2 separate regions of the Homo sapiens genome follow, and region 2 is linked to region 1. The links come from fine-mapping of genetic effects on gene expression. A gene starts in region 1. The other region holds a variant in brackets. All regions are shown on one strand. Distances are between the middles of the regions.

Region 1 (8,329 bases):
TCACACCTGTAATCCCAGCACTTTGGGAGGCTGAGGTGGGTGGATCACCTGAGGTCTGGAGTTCGCCACCAGCTTGGCCAACATAAGGAAACCCCGTCTCTACTAAAAATACAAAAATTAGCCAGGTGTGGTGGCGGGTGCCTGTAATCCCAGCTACTTGGGAGGCTGAGGTAGAAGAATCACTTGAACCTGGGAGGCAGAGATTGTAGTGAGCCAAGACCACACCATCACATTCCAGCCTGGGGAACAAGAGCAAAACTCCATCTCAAAAAAAAAAAAAAAGACTTCCTTTTCCCAGAAAACTAAGGGCCCCCCTACATCAAAATTATTTCCCTTTGGCTGTTCAGGAACAATTGCTCATCTCCTTTCGATTTTTTGACTTTTAACTCCTCCTCAAGGAAGTTAAGGGATGTTTTTTGCTATTGGTAGGTTGTGCTTTTCTAGAGGGAAATAGTTCTAGTATTGAGATCTAAACTGAGAATTGCTGATTATCCATGGAACAAGCATTTTAAAAACAAGACCAGACCCTAGCTCCCACAGAGGACATGGTTGATAGCTTAGTACCAAAGCACAAGCATTATCTTCTGAGTGGGAAAGCAGATATGGAGCTTCCTTGCCCACCTGACACCTAAGCCAACATGTGCAGAATTGGAGCCCTCCAAAACTTGGGCCTCTTCCAAGGTTCTCCAAGTCAATGAAGGGCATCATTGTGTCAGCTTGGGTCCTCCTAGAGCAGACACCAAGATGGAATTAAACCTGGAAGAGTTTATTGGGGAAAATGCCTATGAAGAATAAAGAGGAGCAGAAGCAAGAGTAAGCAGAGAGAGCCCCACACCGTAATGCAGGTCTGACCCCTGTGAAAGAGAAGAGGGAAGGATGGAGGAGTAGATAGGAAGAGCCTCAGACTGCAGAGCCATTCTGAGAAAGTGCTGGCCAGACTGACAGGAAGCCCCAGAGTACAGGTGGCCCATTAGAGGAGTTTTGCCTCTGGCATTCCCTCTTATAGCGTCAAATGCATCTTGTAGTATTTAGGATGGCATTCTATATTTGACCAATTATTTGATTGCTTTATTACCTCACTCAAGTGTGTTTCCCGAGGGCAGAGACCACATTTATTTTTGCTCATCACTGAATCCCCAGCATTAGCAGGGTGGCTGCATTTTGTAGTTGCCACAGAATATTTGTTGAATGAAATATCTAAAAGGGTTATTTTTTTCATTTTTATCTGAATCACACATCAGGTATTTTTTTTTCCTAACCAGTGACTCCTAAGTTAGATGCTGCTTGCACCATGCTTTCATTCCATTTATATCATTCTTCAGCTGGGTTGCGTGATCATCAGCTGTGCCCCGCCCCCCAACCCTCCATTGCCCGATTCTGTAGTAAAGTCTTTTGGGACTGGCCTTGGACTTGGACTTTTGCTTCTTTTGTGTCTTTACTGACTATCAGTGCAGGCCTGGATAAAGTTCTTGTTGCAGAACTTGCTACTGCACAAACTTTTGTTCCAGGGTTAGATCAGGAAGGATAGTAAGGAAAACAGAGCTGTCTCCAAAAGGTGGGATAGAAAGCTGTCCTTTAGAAGTTAAATTATAAATCAAGCCAATCAGAGCAAAGATACAAAATGTCTCCATAAAGAAAAATAAGGGCTGAGAGACCTTACTGAGTAATGTTACTCAGTAACGCCTTGCTCTATCTAAAAATGTCCATCTGAGGAGAGGCGGCCTGGGTACCATAATACAGAGAGCCTCATCGACACAAACAGATGGTGTCCACCAGGCCCCATCTAGGGAGAAGGGCTGGCCAGGCCAGCAGGGATGAGTGAACAGTACTTCCTATAGGTTTTGACCTGTGTTGTGGAAAGAGACATCCCACATTGCCCGAGCCTGATATCATCAAACATTTAAGTCAGACAATTCACTCTTCCGATTCTGATTTTAGGCTCACTAAGCCACCTTCTGACTATGGGGCTCCAAACTGCATGGCTACAAGAAGAGAATGTGTTCATCAGGTGGCCTCGAGTCCAGTGTTCCCGACAGTCTTGCTTCTAACAGGAATGGATAAGCTTCAGGTTTTGGGGTCAGATGGCCTTGATTCAAACCCTGCCACTAACATACATAGTAACTATGTGACCTTGGGATTTCCTTCATCTTTTTTTCTCCCAAATGAAAAATAAATAGATTATAATATACCACATGATAGTAGGGAGAAATAATGAGGTAATAATGCATGTAATGCATTTAGCATAGCACTTCTCTAGCAAATAGTGAATGAAATCAGTCAGTTGTCATTCTGACTTTATGCAACAGTGCTAATCGACTCTGGTACACTGGAAGTCAGATGAGATTTTTGGCCCCACAAAGTCAAGGACCAAACCTGGACCTTGGGAAGTTGCCAAGATGAAAAACATCAGGCCGGCCTTGACCTCCTGATGCTCTCTGTTCACATGTGTGATGTCTATAAAAGGTAACCAGGATTTGGCTTATCTGCTTACATCTCTTCCTGTCTTTTCCTGATCTTCATCTTCCCAAACATAGTTTTTATGCAGAAGCAGATTTAACTCTACTTTGCTATCTTGGAGTCAAGAATTGTCCTATAAGGAGGAAGAGGCTCCAAGGCTTGCCTTTTTTGTTTTTTCTTTTTCCTTCATACTACAGACTAAAAGTAGCATCTTCTGGACAGAGAAACAGGCTGTTGTTTTTCTAAGGTCATCATTTGGCCTGCCCCACTTTCCCACCTGCTCTTGAGGGAACTATTGCAAGGACACATACAAGCCCCTACATCAGTCACAGACCAGGGCCTCCATCTTGCAGGGAATGTGCCCAAATTACAAACAGGTAAACCAAAGTGACTCTGGGCAGATTTAATAGCTCATTTTGGTTTCTTGTTCCAGTTATAACAGACTGCTCTGTGTTTGCTCTATGGCAAAAACTTTTATGTTTGCTTTGCAACAAACGTACAGACAGGGCAAACTGTGTTTGGAGTATGGTGTCTTACCAATGTTTTCTAAAAGCAAGTGAATAGAAATGCTTGCAAAAGTATTTTCAGACCTCAGTGGCCAGCGCTGAACACCGCTGTAGGAATGTCCATCAAACGTTGTGGCCATGCTCCACTCTAACAAAAACCTGGTTCCGTGGCATAATTGTGGGGGCTAATTGTCAGGCTAAGTTTCAGACACCTTCCAAAAAAAATTGCAGGGCTTCCTCAGTCTTTAAACTCCAGATAATATTGTCCAAACTTTGACAACTAACCTGTTATCATGGAGATAGCTCCAAGTTGATGGACTGGCCATTAGAGAATGTCTATCAAGCATCCAGGTAAATGACTTGGTTGCTGCCCTCAAGGAACCCACTTAGAGGCTGTCAGAAAATTTTAAGTATTTTCTTCCTTCTATTGTTCATTCCTAAAATTCTGGCAGTAGGTATGATTATTATTATTCCCATCCCACAGGGGAAGTAATTAAGTCTAACTACTTGAATATTTTGCCCCAAATCACTGACAGTAAGAGACGGCCAGACACTGAAACCTGGAATCTCTAAATGTTTAGATATTGATGGGCACCGCTTAGACCAGGGAGTCCAAACCATAGGCTTGCTGTTCCAGTTTCTCTTATCGGATGAAGGGACCCCCATTTCACCGACGTCATTGACTTTTGGGTTCTCCGCTGACCCCAGATGAGATGCCTGGTACCTCATGGTCAAGTCCCCTCCAACGGGGACTCCTCAGAGGCTTGGTCCCAGTTGCTCAGGCTGCCATCTGCCTCCTCAGGCCAGAGCCCGAGGCGCCGCCAGCGGTCAGGTCCCGGGCCGGCTGCCAGCCACAGGCCCAAGTAAACGCTGAATGAAGGGCAGATGGAGGAACCTGTCCCGGTCGGCCGAAGCGCCGCGGGCGCCTTTCCACTTACGGCGGGCCTGCCCAGCCTCCCGCCCAGCCCGGGCCCGGGTCCCGCCGAGGCAGGTGTGCGTGGCGGACTAGCTCTCGGGCACTCGGCTGGCCCAGCTCCACCCCGAACGCCACCGGGCCAGGCCACGCGCAGACCCGAGCCCGGGGCCCCCGCCTCTGGCTGCCGGCCCGCGCCCGCCGCGCGCCCCGCGTTCACTGCGCGCTCGGCCCCGGTCCCGCCTCCCGGAGGGTTTCGCTTTCGCTTTCCTGCCGATGTCGTTGAGGAAAATGAAAGCGGTCGTGGCCAGGACTGGCGCAGCTGCCGTTTCAGGCGAGGGGCGCAGAATGCAGCGGCCGCCAGCCTGGAGCGCGGGCCCTGGGGCCGCAACCCGCGCCGGGCGAGGTAAGCACAGCCCCTTCGCGGCCGCCTCGCGGGCTCCTCCTTGCGGACCCGGCGGGCCCGACGCCAGGCGTTTGACCCGGGCAGGGTCAGGGGTTCTGCCGTGGGGGCGGGGAGGGCCTGAGAAGCGGCACCCTTGGGTTTCGTGGCTTTGAGCCTCCAGGCCAGGCTGGAAGACCTGGGAGGCCTCAGACAAGCGTGCCAAGGGGCTAGCAGCCCGGGGTCGAGCTGGAACCGTGGCAAGTCGGGCCACCTGAGCACGCCTTTCCCTTTTGTAGAGCACCGACCTCCCTGGGTGTTGGTAAAAATCAAAAGTGGGAGGGTGTACGTAAAATGCTGAACAGAATGCCTAACCTGAGCTCATAATCTACTCCCTCTGACCTGTCAGACTCATTTTTCCCACTGGGCCCCACCCCATACCTCATGTAGTTTGCTTAAGTTTCCTAGATCTGGTGCACCTGGGGGCACTTGGAGTGCCTTCCAAGTGTTCCTTGACCGAGCAAGCTGGCAGCTCATCTCCCTTGATCACGGGCATGGAGAGCAACTAGGCCAGGATGTGGCCCCCTTGCCCTGGCCCTGTCCATGTGAAGTCAGGGCCTTACTCTGCTGGGGCCCCCATCCCGGGGCTAGCATAGATGTCAGGGATAGGTGCACTCACAGACCGAGTCCTTCCCAGACCAGGAAATTTCCAGTCCACTGCATCTGCCAGCAGAAGCATGAAAGATGCGTGCCACCTTGTCTTTGCCCTTCGTCAAGTATAGCCAACTCATTCTTGGTATGCAGGAAGGGGGTTCCACCCCAGGGCTGTGGAAACAGCCCCTGCCCTTAGGGCGTTCCCATCCCCTGAAGAGAGAAAATATGTATTCAAGTTACCCATCAGGCAGGTTGTGTAGAACAAGGACAGGTGAGTGAAAGAGCTAAGAGCTGAGAGTAAAGTGACTAAATCATCAGAAACTTTACATTTAAGTTATGACAGGTTTTGCAGGCCAATACCAAGAATCCCCTTTAACTCAATTTTTGTCTCAATAATAATGAATTCAGCCTAATCACACAGATCTGATCATACGGCCCATTACTGAAACAAAACTTGAATGATCTTTACTTTGAGAAAACCATCTGAATTTGACAAAAGATGGTCTAAGTTCCTAAGTTTCAAAACATGGAGTCCGCCGCTGCCCTACCTCAGCAGGATGGTGTTGAGTACTGATTGCTTTTAGAAAATGCTGCTCTTGCCGGGCACGGTGGCTCACGCCTGTAATCCCAGCACTTCAGGAGGCCGAGGCGGGCTGATTACCTGAGGTCGGGAGTTTGAGACCAGCCTGACAAACATGGAGAAACCCCGTCTCTACTAAAAATACAAAATTAGCCAGGCATTGTGGCACATGCCTGTAATCCCAGCTACTTGGGAGGCTGAGGTAGGAGAATTGCTTGAACCCGGGAGGCGGAGGTTGCAGTGAGCCAAGATCGCGCCACTGCACTCCAGCCTCGGCAACAAGAGCTAAACTCCGTCTAAAAAAAACAAAGAAAGAAAAAAAGAAAATAGAGAAAATGCTGCTGTTTTCATGAGCCAGAAAATTAGATGCACTTCCATTCACATTCCATTGGCATGGACTAGTCTCATGGGTCTCACCTAATTGTAAGGTGGCTGGGAAATGTAGCCTGGTGGTGTTCCCAGGAGGAAAAGAACGAGAGACTGGTGAGCACTAGTAACCTCTTCCACAATCGACTAATGTGGTGAATTACTTTATCATGATGTATTTGTAATACACTTTCGTATTTGATTAGATAATATTTTATTTAGGAGTTTAACATCTATGTTTATAAGTGAAACTATCCTGTATTTTTCTTTATTTGTACAGTCCATATTTAACATTTCAAAATCAAGTAACAAATTGGGCAATGTTTTCTCTTTTTTTCTATTTTCTAAAGCAACTCCATTAAGATAGAGATTTTCTGCTCCTTGGAAGTTAGTAGGAGGCACTTGTAAAATCTTCTGGGTCTGAAACTCTATGGGGAAGAGGTTTCAAAATTATTTGAGTCTCTTAAGTGGTTATTCACATTTTTGTGCCAAATTTGGCAATTTTTATTGTCTAGAAATTATTCATTTCATCTGTATTTTCAAATGTATTATCATGTGTTTATATTATTCCTTTATAAGTTTTAAAATGTCTGTTTTATTTGTCATTTCTTCCTTTTTCTGTAATCTCATTTTTAAAAAATCTTCTGTCAGTTATTCTTGATCAGTCTCACTAGAGGTTTGTCTACTTTCAAATAAATACTTCAAGTTTTGTTAACCACCTTTTTTTTGGTCCTCTATGTCCTCTATTTTGCTGATTCTGCCCTTATGTTTATTATTCCATTTTTTCATGTTTCTTTAGTCATATGCTTTTGTAATAAATTCAAACAGTATAGACATTTGTAAAGTGAGACAGGAAAGTCCACTTCAGCCTCCATAGGCAACCACAGATATCATATTGGTGTGTTTTTCTGGACCCTTTCCTATGCTTATACAAATATTTTTCTACAACTTTCTAAACTGAAACTCATAGGTAAACTGCTCTTTATAGGCAACCACAGATATCATATTGGTGTGTTTTTCTGGACCCTTTCCTATGCTTATACAAATATATTTCTACATCTTTCTAAACTGAAACTCATGGGCCTCTTTCTGTGGTGTATACACACACATACACATACATACACACACATACACATCCATTAAAATGGAATACATACCATAATTTATCCATTTTCCATTTATGGGCATTTAGGGTGAAAGTCTTGGTCTTTTAACAATGGAATTTAATTCATTCATATTTATTTTGATCACTGATAAATGTGGTCTTATTTTTGCCATCTTGTTTTGCCATGTATTTATCATGTGTGTTTTTTTTTTCCTTGTGACTCTATGGATTCATCAAAGTGTATTTGTCCCCTGTTTCTTCTTTCCTTCTTTTTATTCAGTGAGTTGGAAGTTCTATATCTTACAATAGGCCATCATTTAGTTCTTAAGCTTAGATAAACTTGTATTTTTGTCTCTGGCAAAAATTAATCAGAACCTATAACCTCCTTCCAAACATAATAAATCTTTTTTTTTATTTTTTGTTTTTGTTTTTGTTTTTGAGATGGAGTCTCGCTCTGTCACCCAGGCTGGAGTGCAGTGGTACAATCTCAGCTCTCTGCAACCTCCACCTCCCGGGCTCAAGCACTTCACCTGTCTCAGCCTCCCGAGTAGCTGGGACTACAGGTCCCACCATGCCCAGCTAATTTTTGTATTTTTAGCAGAGACGGGGTTTCACCATGTTGGCCAGGATGGTCTCAATCTCTTGACCTAGTGATCCACCCGCCTCAGCCTCCCAAAGTGCTGGAATTACATAAGTATGTTTTCTCACGTCTCTTTTTCCTTACCTTTTCCCCACAGGCACATATACACATAGGTATCTGCCTGGGAATTATTAAAATAACCTGAACAATTCCAATTGTTATTAATTCTTCTTGCTTCAAAATACAATTTCCTTTTTCTATGTTAGAAATATTAACAATTGCATTAATCTACAATCTAACCTATTTGTGCAATTGCATATTATACCAGGATAGGAAAGTTTAAACATGTATTTCTTTTAGACTTTTCATTGAATTGCTGAAAATTCATAGTGAATTGTATCTTGAGTAATGCTTCTCTGAGTCTCTTATTTCCCAAAAGTATACTTTGGAATCCATGCAATTCTGATCGTTGTTTGACCTTTGCTGGCACAAAGGCATTCTGAAATATTTGCAAATGCTAAAGTCACTTCCTCATCTTTTACAGAGTTTACTTCAGCTTGGTGAAACCAAGTGCAGTATCAGTTTGTTGTAAGCTTACCACTAATTAAAGGTTCATAAAATAGCCCTGCCCTAGGGTCAGGGACTAGCTAGAAGAGCATGAAAATAGCCTTTGAAGATTCAGCTGCTGGATATTTTACATCAAAAAGCTGAAACGTTTTAACTATTTTAATATTTTGTTTATAGTACTTAATATTTGTGAACGTGAAGTAAAATGGACACAGTCAT
Region 2 (8,329 bases), 66 kb after region 1:
TTATTTTTAATGTAGAAGAAACTAGAAAACCTTTTTCTTAAAAAAAAAAAAAAAAAAAAAAAAGCAAAGCCCCACAGTCTGTAGTGGTTGGAGGACATCCTGTGGGGCTGCATGGTGGCTCTGTCGCACATCCGGTGTGAGCTGCGGGGCGGTGGCAGTGGCTGGGTCCTTTTCTCCCCTGGCCAGGCTACACCCTTCTGCCTGTGGGTAAGACAGAGTTTTGAAGCGTCTGTGCTCACCCTTTCCTCCCTAACACAGGATGCTGTGATCATTCACCCTATCAAAAGGCATGTGGGGTTGTGATCGTTACTGTTTGCATCTCAAGTTGTGCGGCACAATGTTTTCTCGTGTGTTATCTCACCTGAGACTCACACACCCTGTGAGACAGATAAGACAAATGATGTTATACCCATTTTACAGATGAAGAAACTGAGGCTACAAAAGATCTAGTGGCTTATTTGAGGCCACATAGCTAGTAAGTGGCAGAGTGGGGACTTTTTGCAGATCTGGCTGGCATCCAGTAACTATTTTTTTTCCTCTATACTTTTTTTTCCAGTAGTCCTAGCTTTTCCAGAGCTAAACTGAGTCCCCTTAGTATTCCCTTAGTAAGGCCAAGGACTGAGAGTGTTATGAGTATTGTGGATGTGTGGAGGGGCCATGCAACTCCTTCCTGGGAATCTTAAGCCAAGCCCTGTGGCCTCTGACTAGCTGTCCTAGGTGGCCTGACCTCAGGCAAGCCCCTCCATGACCACTCAGAGCCAGCACCTCAGCTCACTGAGGTTTGGGGAGGGGGCTCAAAGAGGCAGCTGCTTCCTATAGAGAGGTCCAGCAGAGGCACTATCCTGGGGGGCATCCTTCTTGACCCCCTCCATGCCATGGAGGCCCATTCCCTGCCCAGGGCTTTAGAGTCTGAGCTTCTCCCAGAGGGAATGGAGTCTTTCACAGAGAGGCTGTAGAGCCTTGTGAGGCTGAGTCCAACCCACGTGCAGGGATTTTGGGCAGCTGCATCCCCCAAATGGTTTCCCAGTGGATCAGTTTCCTATTGCTGCTCTAACAAATTATCATAAACAGGGGCTTAAAACAACACAATTTTTTATTTATTTATTTATTTTTTTGGATACAGGGTCTTGCTCTGTCACTCAGGCTGGAGTGCAGTGGCTCAATCTTGACTCACTGCAACCTCTCCCTCCTGGGCTCAGGCCATCCTCCTACCTCAGCCTCCCAAGTAGCCAGGACTAAAGGCACGTGCTACCACACCTGGCTAATTTTTTGTATACTTTATAGAGACAGGGTCTCACTATGTTGCCCTGGCTGGTCTCAAACTCCTGGGCACAAGCAATCTGCCTGCCTCAGCCTCCCAAAGTGCTAGGATTACAGGTGTAAGCCACTGCACCTGGCCCGTTTCTTTTCTTATAGTTCTGTAGTCAGAAGTCCAAAACAGGTCTCACTGGGCTAAACTCAAGGTGTCAACAGAGCTGCATTTCTTCCTGGGGGCTCTAGTGGAGAATCCCTTTCCTTCCTTTCCCTTTCCAGCTTTTAGAGGCTGCCTGCATTCCTTGGCCTGCAACCCCTTCCTCCACTTTCAAAGCCAGCACTGGCTGGTCAGGTTTTTCACAATGCGATCTCTCTGGTTCTGACCCTTCTGCCTCCTCCTTCTTCATTTAAGAACCCTTGTGATTACACTGGGCCCACACCAATAATCCAGGGTAATCTCTCTATTTGCAAGTGAGCTGGTTAGCAACCTTAATTCCATCTGCAGTTTTAATTCCTCTTTGCCATGTAGCAACATATTCATAGGCTCATGCATTAGGACGTGGACCTCTTTATTCCACTGTGGACCAATACTCTGCCTTCCACACCTAGCCTCTCTTCTGAGTTTTCCAAGGGCCCCCCATCCTCAGGCATCCTCAGGCATAGACAGCCGGCTGGGCCAGACCACAGTCAGGATGTTCCCGCCACTATCAGAGAGGTCCTTTCTACCTAAGTCCCCTCCCACCTGCCTGCTCCTCTTTCAGCTCGGTCTGTCCTGGATTCCTCTTCCTTCATCCTCTGCTCCCAGTCTTAGGTAGAGAAGAGCTGAGCAGGAAGTGCCAGGGGGTGTGGAGATGGAGGAGGGGGAAGGTAAGGCCTGAGGCACCAGGGCTCTGGGAGCCCAGGGAGCTGAGGCCTTTCAATCCAGACACCCTGCACTTCTCTGGCTCTGGGGCCTCTGGGGACCACACACTCAGCTCCAGGGCTGGAGGGGTGGCCAGCCAAGTATTGGAACCCTTCTGCTTGTACATCCCTAGCTGCCCTTAACAGCCACAGTTCACCTGGCCCTTTTCTTGGGTGATGACAGACTGTCTGCCTTAATTTATTCCCTTTCCCCTGTCCCTCCCTAGGCCTCAGGCTGGAACTTTCAGGAGCTTCCACGGGAGGCAAGGCCCCAGCCAGGCCTCTGTCCCTGGGCTGCTTGGTGTGGGGATGGGGGATCCAGAACCCCAGCAGGAGGGCAGATGGGGAGCACAGGGCAGGAGGGGCAGGACAAAGCCTTTGGCCCTCAGGGAGGGTGACCAACTGGCCCTGGTTTGCCTGGGACTTTCCCAGTTTTAGCACTGAAAGTCCCAAATCCTGGGAAACTCCTCAGTCCTAAGCAAACTGGAACAGTTGGTCAGCCTATCTCCAAGCCTTTTGCACCTCCTAATCTACTCTAGATCACCTCTGCAGCCTGCACAGCCGGGCCTTTGGACTCCTGGATGCTAGAGTGACCTGGGCGCTGAGGAGGGCCCCCGAGCCAGTACCAGGAAAGGATAGACTCCTGCTTGCAGCATTCCCAGCAGAGGCATCGCCTGTGGACACCGCGTCTGTGTCTGTATATGGCAGAGCTCCCAGATATATGCACAAGGGAGTGAAAAAATGTGTTTGCACCCCAGTCTCTAAAAATTCAACAGCCTGGTTACTTCTGGGTGGTATATCGTAGGTGGCTTTAATACGTGTTATTTGCTCATCTGTATTTCTTACTCTTTGCACAATTAAACCATGTTCCTTTTACTTATGTACATTTTTAATAAAAGAAAGTTGTTAATGACTCAGCCTTCTATCTCCAGTACTGCCGAAAAGAGACAAGCGGTCATGCTGCATGTCATGCACACACTGGCCCTTGTTCTGGGGACTTTGACCTTGGCTGCTGGTTGGTCATGGCCTGTTTTGCCCAGGGCTCTACTGCAGGGGCAGGGTTGGTTATTCCTCTGTGCCCTTTTTGCCTCTCAGCCTGCCTGCTCCTCTGGACCCCAGAGTCTAGCCTGGTTCCCCCAGGGGAGGGACTCAGAAAGTGCTACTATAGAGAGATGCTAACTACATCTCTGCTGAGCAGCAGGAGATGCTCTGAAGTGCCAATCCTGGCTGAACACTGTGAGAATATGGAAGAGATAAGCTGCTTGCCCCTGGGGAGCTTCCAGTCTGGTTGGCGAGATTGGGTACCCCGCAGACCCTGTGGGGACTGGCAGACAGGAAGGGACAGGCCCTAGAGGGTGAGGCTTTGCCTGTGAGGGCTGTCACTGGTCAGAGAAGGGAGGGCCCCAGGGCTCCATTGTACAAGTCTTAGGATGGCCAAAGACCAAAAATGGGGTCCTCTTCAGTGACCTGAGGCAGGCCGCACAAGCTTGGGGGTAGATGGTCTCCTGTGCCCAGAACTCTGGCTGCTCGCCACCTATGACAGAAGAATGGTGATGAACACTCACCAGGCTGTTCCAAGTCTCGGAAAGTTGGACACCCCTTCAGGTCCTCCTCCCTGTCCCACCCCACCCCACCCCTACCCCATATGGGAATGCCAGGCTGTAGCCTTCGCTGTGACCCATCCCAACTCCAGCTCCTCTCCCCATCCCAACTCCAGCTCCTCTCCCCATCCCAACAAGCCAAGCAGGAGCACTTGGAGGGGAGCCCTGGGTCCCCAGCAGAAACAGCCCTCCACTGCCTCCACAATCAGGTCATCAGCCCCTGCCCCAGTCCACTGTTGCCCTAGTGTGGCCGACATGACAGGACTTCTTGTAATTCTGGCCTAATGGTTCCCACATCCCCAAACACCAACTCCATGTCCATATGCCTCCCTTGTTACACAAAGTCAGCTTTCTCCAAGAAACCAGAGAAGCACATGATCCCCGCCACACCTCTCCAGGGGCCTCCCTCCTGATCTGAGATCCTCGGTATATCCCATGGCCTCTCTGAGCCAAGGTGTAGCTGAGTTGTGTGGGGTTTTTGTTTGTTTGTTTGTTTAACCACTGTGTAAGAACTCACTACTTGGGCCCCAATTCTGGACAAATTCCAGATTGACAGTGTGAGGGAGAGGTGGTAGCAGAACTGGACACCCCCACAACCTTGTTGCTTTGAAGG[AAAG/A]AAGGAGGGCAGAAACAGGAGGGGATCCAGCCAATCCAAGGCATTTGGCCCGAAATGGATGTGAAGACCTCACCCAGGCTGCCCCTCTGGGCTGGCACAGGAGGGCAGGGGAGGGCCTTCCCTAAAGGAAGCCTGCAGGTGAATCCCAGCGCCCGCCTGATGTAAGGTGGCAACTGGCCAGCAGCCAGAGGTGCCAGGTGTTCTCAGGGATCAAGAAACCAGGAATTAGGCCCACCAGAGCCATAGGGTCTGACCCGAGCCTGGTGGCTGGGAATGAGAATGCATCTGTGCATGGTCCTGAGTCTCACAGCCATCCAGGGTCCAGACCTCTGAGGAACTCCAGGACCCAACAGAGGGTCTGGTTTAAAGCAGAACAGGAGACTAGGTTGTCTTGCTGAGACAGAAACATGGCTAAAAAGTCCTCTTTGATCCTGGGAGCTGAGATAAGGCCTAGCAGGCCAGAGTCCCCCGTTTGCTCCAAACAGGCCTGGTGTGGCCAAGCTGCCCCCTGCACTGAGGCCAAGTTACAAGCCTGTCTGTGTCTCGGCCCCCTGGGGCCCCACCCTTCGAAACTGCAGGTGGCCTCCAGGGCATAGGTGGGGCAAACCCTACCCTGTTGGGGCCCTGGGGCCTGTAGCGGCAGAGCCATGTTGCCAGGGGTGTTGGAAGGTGTGTGTGCTGGGGGAAGGGAGGAGAGCTGAAGGCAGGGCAGCACAGCAGCTGCAGCTTTTGCCGCCTTCCCTCAGCATCCACAAGTGCTTGCTTGGCATAAGGTGCTCGGGCCCTGCCCCTTGCTAGCTCTCCCCAGCTTCTTGTGCAGGCCTCCGTGTTCTTCTCTCAGGCAGCCTGATATGGAACCAACCTGGATTCTGGGCACAGATAGATGATGTGGGTTGGAACCAAGGCTCCATACTGATTAGGTGGTGAGAGTTGGTTTCCTGGTCTGTGAACAAGGGCCGTGGTGGGGTGCCAGTGCCGTGGTACACACGTGGTGCTTGGCATAGCACCCAGCACAAAGTGAGCACTCGAGGCCTGTGTTGCCATTATCCAGCCACACTTTGAGGTCTTTTCCAGTTCTGCTCATTTGTGAGCTTGTGGGATCATCTCCTTGGGTGAGGAATGGTGGGCTGGACGTCTGCCTCCCCTCTTTCATTCAGTCCCCATGTCCTTGCTCCATAGCCTCCAGTATCTCCCCAGCTGAAGTTTCACTCAGCAGACTCTGCAGGCTTGTGTCTTACCACTGAGCCAGCAGAGGTGGACTTCTGTAACTCCTTACCCTGAGAAAACCAGCATAAATGGGTCTCTTGAGAGCTGCCTGGAGCTAGGAAAACTATGCGGCCAGCCAGCTATACCCTTCTGAGGCCTTAGACTTGGCCCCACAAGGGAGCTCCGGATGATAAAGCCAAGCTCCACCCTGCCAAGTACTTTCACCCCTGGAAAAGGAGGGCACCAGCTTCCCCTTCTCCCACCCCAGGCCTCCTTCCTCTGTGACAGCCAGCAGAACTGGGGAAAGGTTAGTGCTGAGTTCTGATGAATTGGAAGATCAGTTGTGCCCAAGTTAAGGAACAGCATTACATCTGACAGAGACAAAAGCTTTCTATAGGGTCACTATATTAGCCCTGGGTGCTCCAACAGGACTGCCTGGAGGACATCTGTACCCCCTTTCCCCTCCAAGTATAAGGGCAGAGTTTTGGATCTGTACACAGTGTGAAAGATCAAGTGGTCCCAGAGAATGACAACCTGGCTGTTTCCCAGCCCCACCAACCAGGAGACATCACTCCTAGAGAAAAAAACTCCACTTCCCAGGGCTACCCCAGGATTTCAGTTCCCACTTTGGCAGGCCCCACTGGAGACTTCCAGAAAAATCAGAGAAAGCTCTTTCCTTTGGAGTTGTAATGGTCACAACACCCTGCACACAGTGCACTGAGAGATGTTGAAAGCTGACACACCAAGAAGGGATGGTTTGCCTATTAGCTTCTAGCTTTCTTCCTATTGCCAAGTGAGCTGAATGAATAAACCAGCCCAATGAAAGTGACCAGCCAGCTATACCCTTTTGGAGTTAAGGCAAGGAAACCCATGACTAACCACAAATGCCCGCAAATGTCTGTAAACTTGGCCCAACATGAGAAATCTAGCTGGTGTGGCTGAGCACCACTTTTGTCAGTTTACCCCAGTGGAAAGTGGTCCTTGATGACAGTTATCTCATCACAACCCCAGCAAAACAGATCTTTCAACAACCTCCTAGCTCCCTCAACCTAGAACTTCCACCATTAGTGCTTATACTGAAACTCTTGAGAATGACCCACAGAAGCACTGTCAGGTCCTTAGAATGATCTAATTATTAAGCACAAACTTGGTTCAGATCTTACTAATACTGCTCCGTTTCAGGCACTGTTTGGCTAATGACTCGGTAGTGTCAGCTGCCATCACCTTTAGGTGAGCTGTCAGACCTTATTTAGTTTCTTTTCCTAGGAAAAGGCTGAAGTCTTGGTAGGATGTGATGGGACAGCTCTCCATCCTGAAAGGTCTGGCTCTATCCCACACTACTCCAGGCTTGGTCCCTAGGACCCAGCTCCATTGTGATGGGGGCCAGGGGAGAGTTTTGAGGTCCCTCCCTGGAGATTCCAAGCAATTGCTACCAATCATTTAGGACTCCTGGGATCAGAGGGGATGGGGAAATTGAGGACTACATCTTGGTTGTGGAGATTGGAAGCTGATGGACATAATTCCTCTCTCTTTTTGGTAATTTACAAGCAATTAACTTTGCTTTTAGAACTTGAGAGATTTCCACAGCTGCCTAAGACTTCACATACTCACTGCCTACCCTCCATCAGGGATTAGATTGAAGGGCAGGAGAAAAAGAAGTCAGAGCTGCTGCTTGTTCTGGGTGGTATCACTTTCCTCCCGTCAGTCCACTCTACCTTGCTCTGCACCACCTGCCATCACCCACTAGGAGAACCCAGATGGAAGCCACAGGTGGCTAGCCACCTCAATCCAAATCTTAAAAAGGGCTGGTCCCTGAAGGAGCTGGAAAAGTCCATCCTGTCTATTCCTCTGTTCCCAGGTGAAGCTATTCTTGAGAAATCCAAGTGGAGCTTCCAAGTAGAACTTCTTTTTTTTTTTTTTTTTTGAGACAGAGTCTCGCTCTGTTGCCCAGGCTAGAGTGCAGTGGCGTGATCTCAGCTCACTGCAACCTCCACCTCCTGGGTTCAAGTGATTGGCCTGCCTCAGCCTCCCTAGTAGCTGGAATTACAGGCATGCACCACCACGCCTGGTTAGTTTTTTTTTAGTAGAGACAGGGTTTCACCATGTTGCCCAGCCTGGTTTTGAACTCCTGAACTCAGGCAATCCACCTGCCTCGGCCTCCCAAAGTGCCAAGATTACAAGTGTGAGCCACCGCGCTCGGCCCAAGGGGAGCTTCTGACAAGCAGGGCCTGGGATAGGGGCCTGTCCAGGCATCCACATATAGAATATTTACCCAGCAGGAGTCCCCCTGCCACTCACACAGCATCTCCAAGATCAGGGACCAGTACTTCCTGAGCTTGACAGAGAATGAATGTGTCAGACTGACCTCTGCCCATTTTGTAGTTTTCTCATCATTTTCTCACTCAGTCTTCCCTTTTCAAGGGCCCACACTCTTCCCGAGGGCTGGGCCTAGTGAGCGGGGTCACAGTACATATGGTTTCTGGGACTGAGAAGGTGGAAGATGTGTCCATAGAGCTTTTGTTTCCTAAGCAACGTATTACTGCCATGATTCCATTCCCTAGATGATGCTGGTGATGCAAGCTGGCTTCTCTTGGCCAGCCTACCTACTGCTGGGTAGTGTTTATGCCCCATGGCCAGACACTGAAGAGGGAGACAGGAAAAGCACATATCCACACCTTCCACCCTCAGACATTCCTGTAACTTGAGCTTATCTAAGGGGGCATTGTCATATGTCAGGGGTTCCCAAACTACG

The links. PIP is the estimated chance that this variant, and not a neighbour inherited with it, causes the effect.
Region 2: its variant is the best candidate, but not a certain one, in a credible set for the expression of CARINH in whole blood (INTERVAL, PIP 0.79).

Annotation. Positions count from the first base shown.
Region 1 is chr5:132,406,760-132,415,088 of GRCh38, forward strand. CARINH (colitis associated IRF1 antisense regulator of intestinal homeostasis) reads left to right here and starts at 4,170. Exons shown (of 4, transcript NR_161242.1): 1 at 4,170-4,282. RefSeq lists an enhancer at 3,519-3,568 and silencers at 3,809-4,108, 4,179-4,468.
Region 2 is chr5:132,472,974-132,481,302 of GRCh38, forward strand. CARINH (colitis associated IRF1 antisense regulator of intestinal homeostasis) reads left to right here. Exons shown (of 4, transcript NR_161242.1): 4 at 2,694-3,071. Among named protein-coding and RNA genes, the nearest start is that of IRF1, 14 kb to the right of the region's middle. RefSeq lists a silencer at 259-338 and enhancers at 6,299-6,348, 6,359-6,608. The variant AAAG/A (reference allele first, on the strand shown) is at 4,369.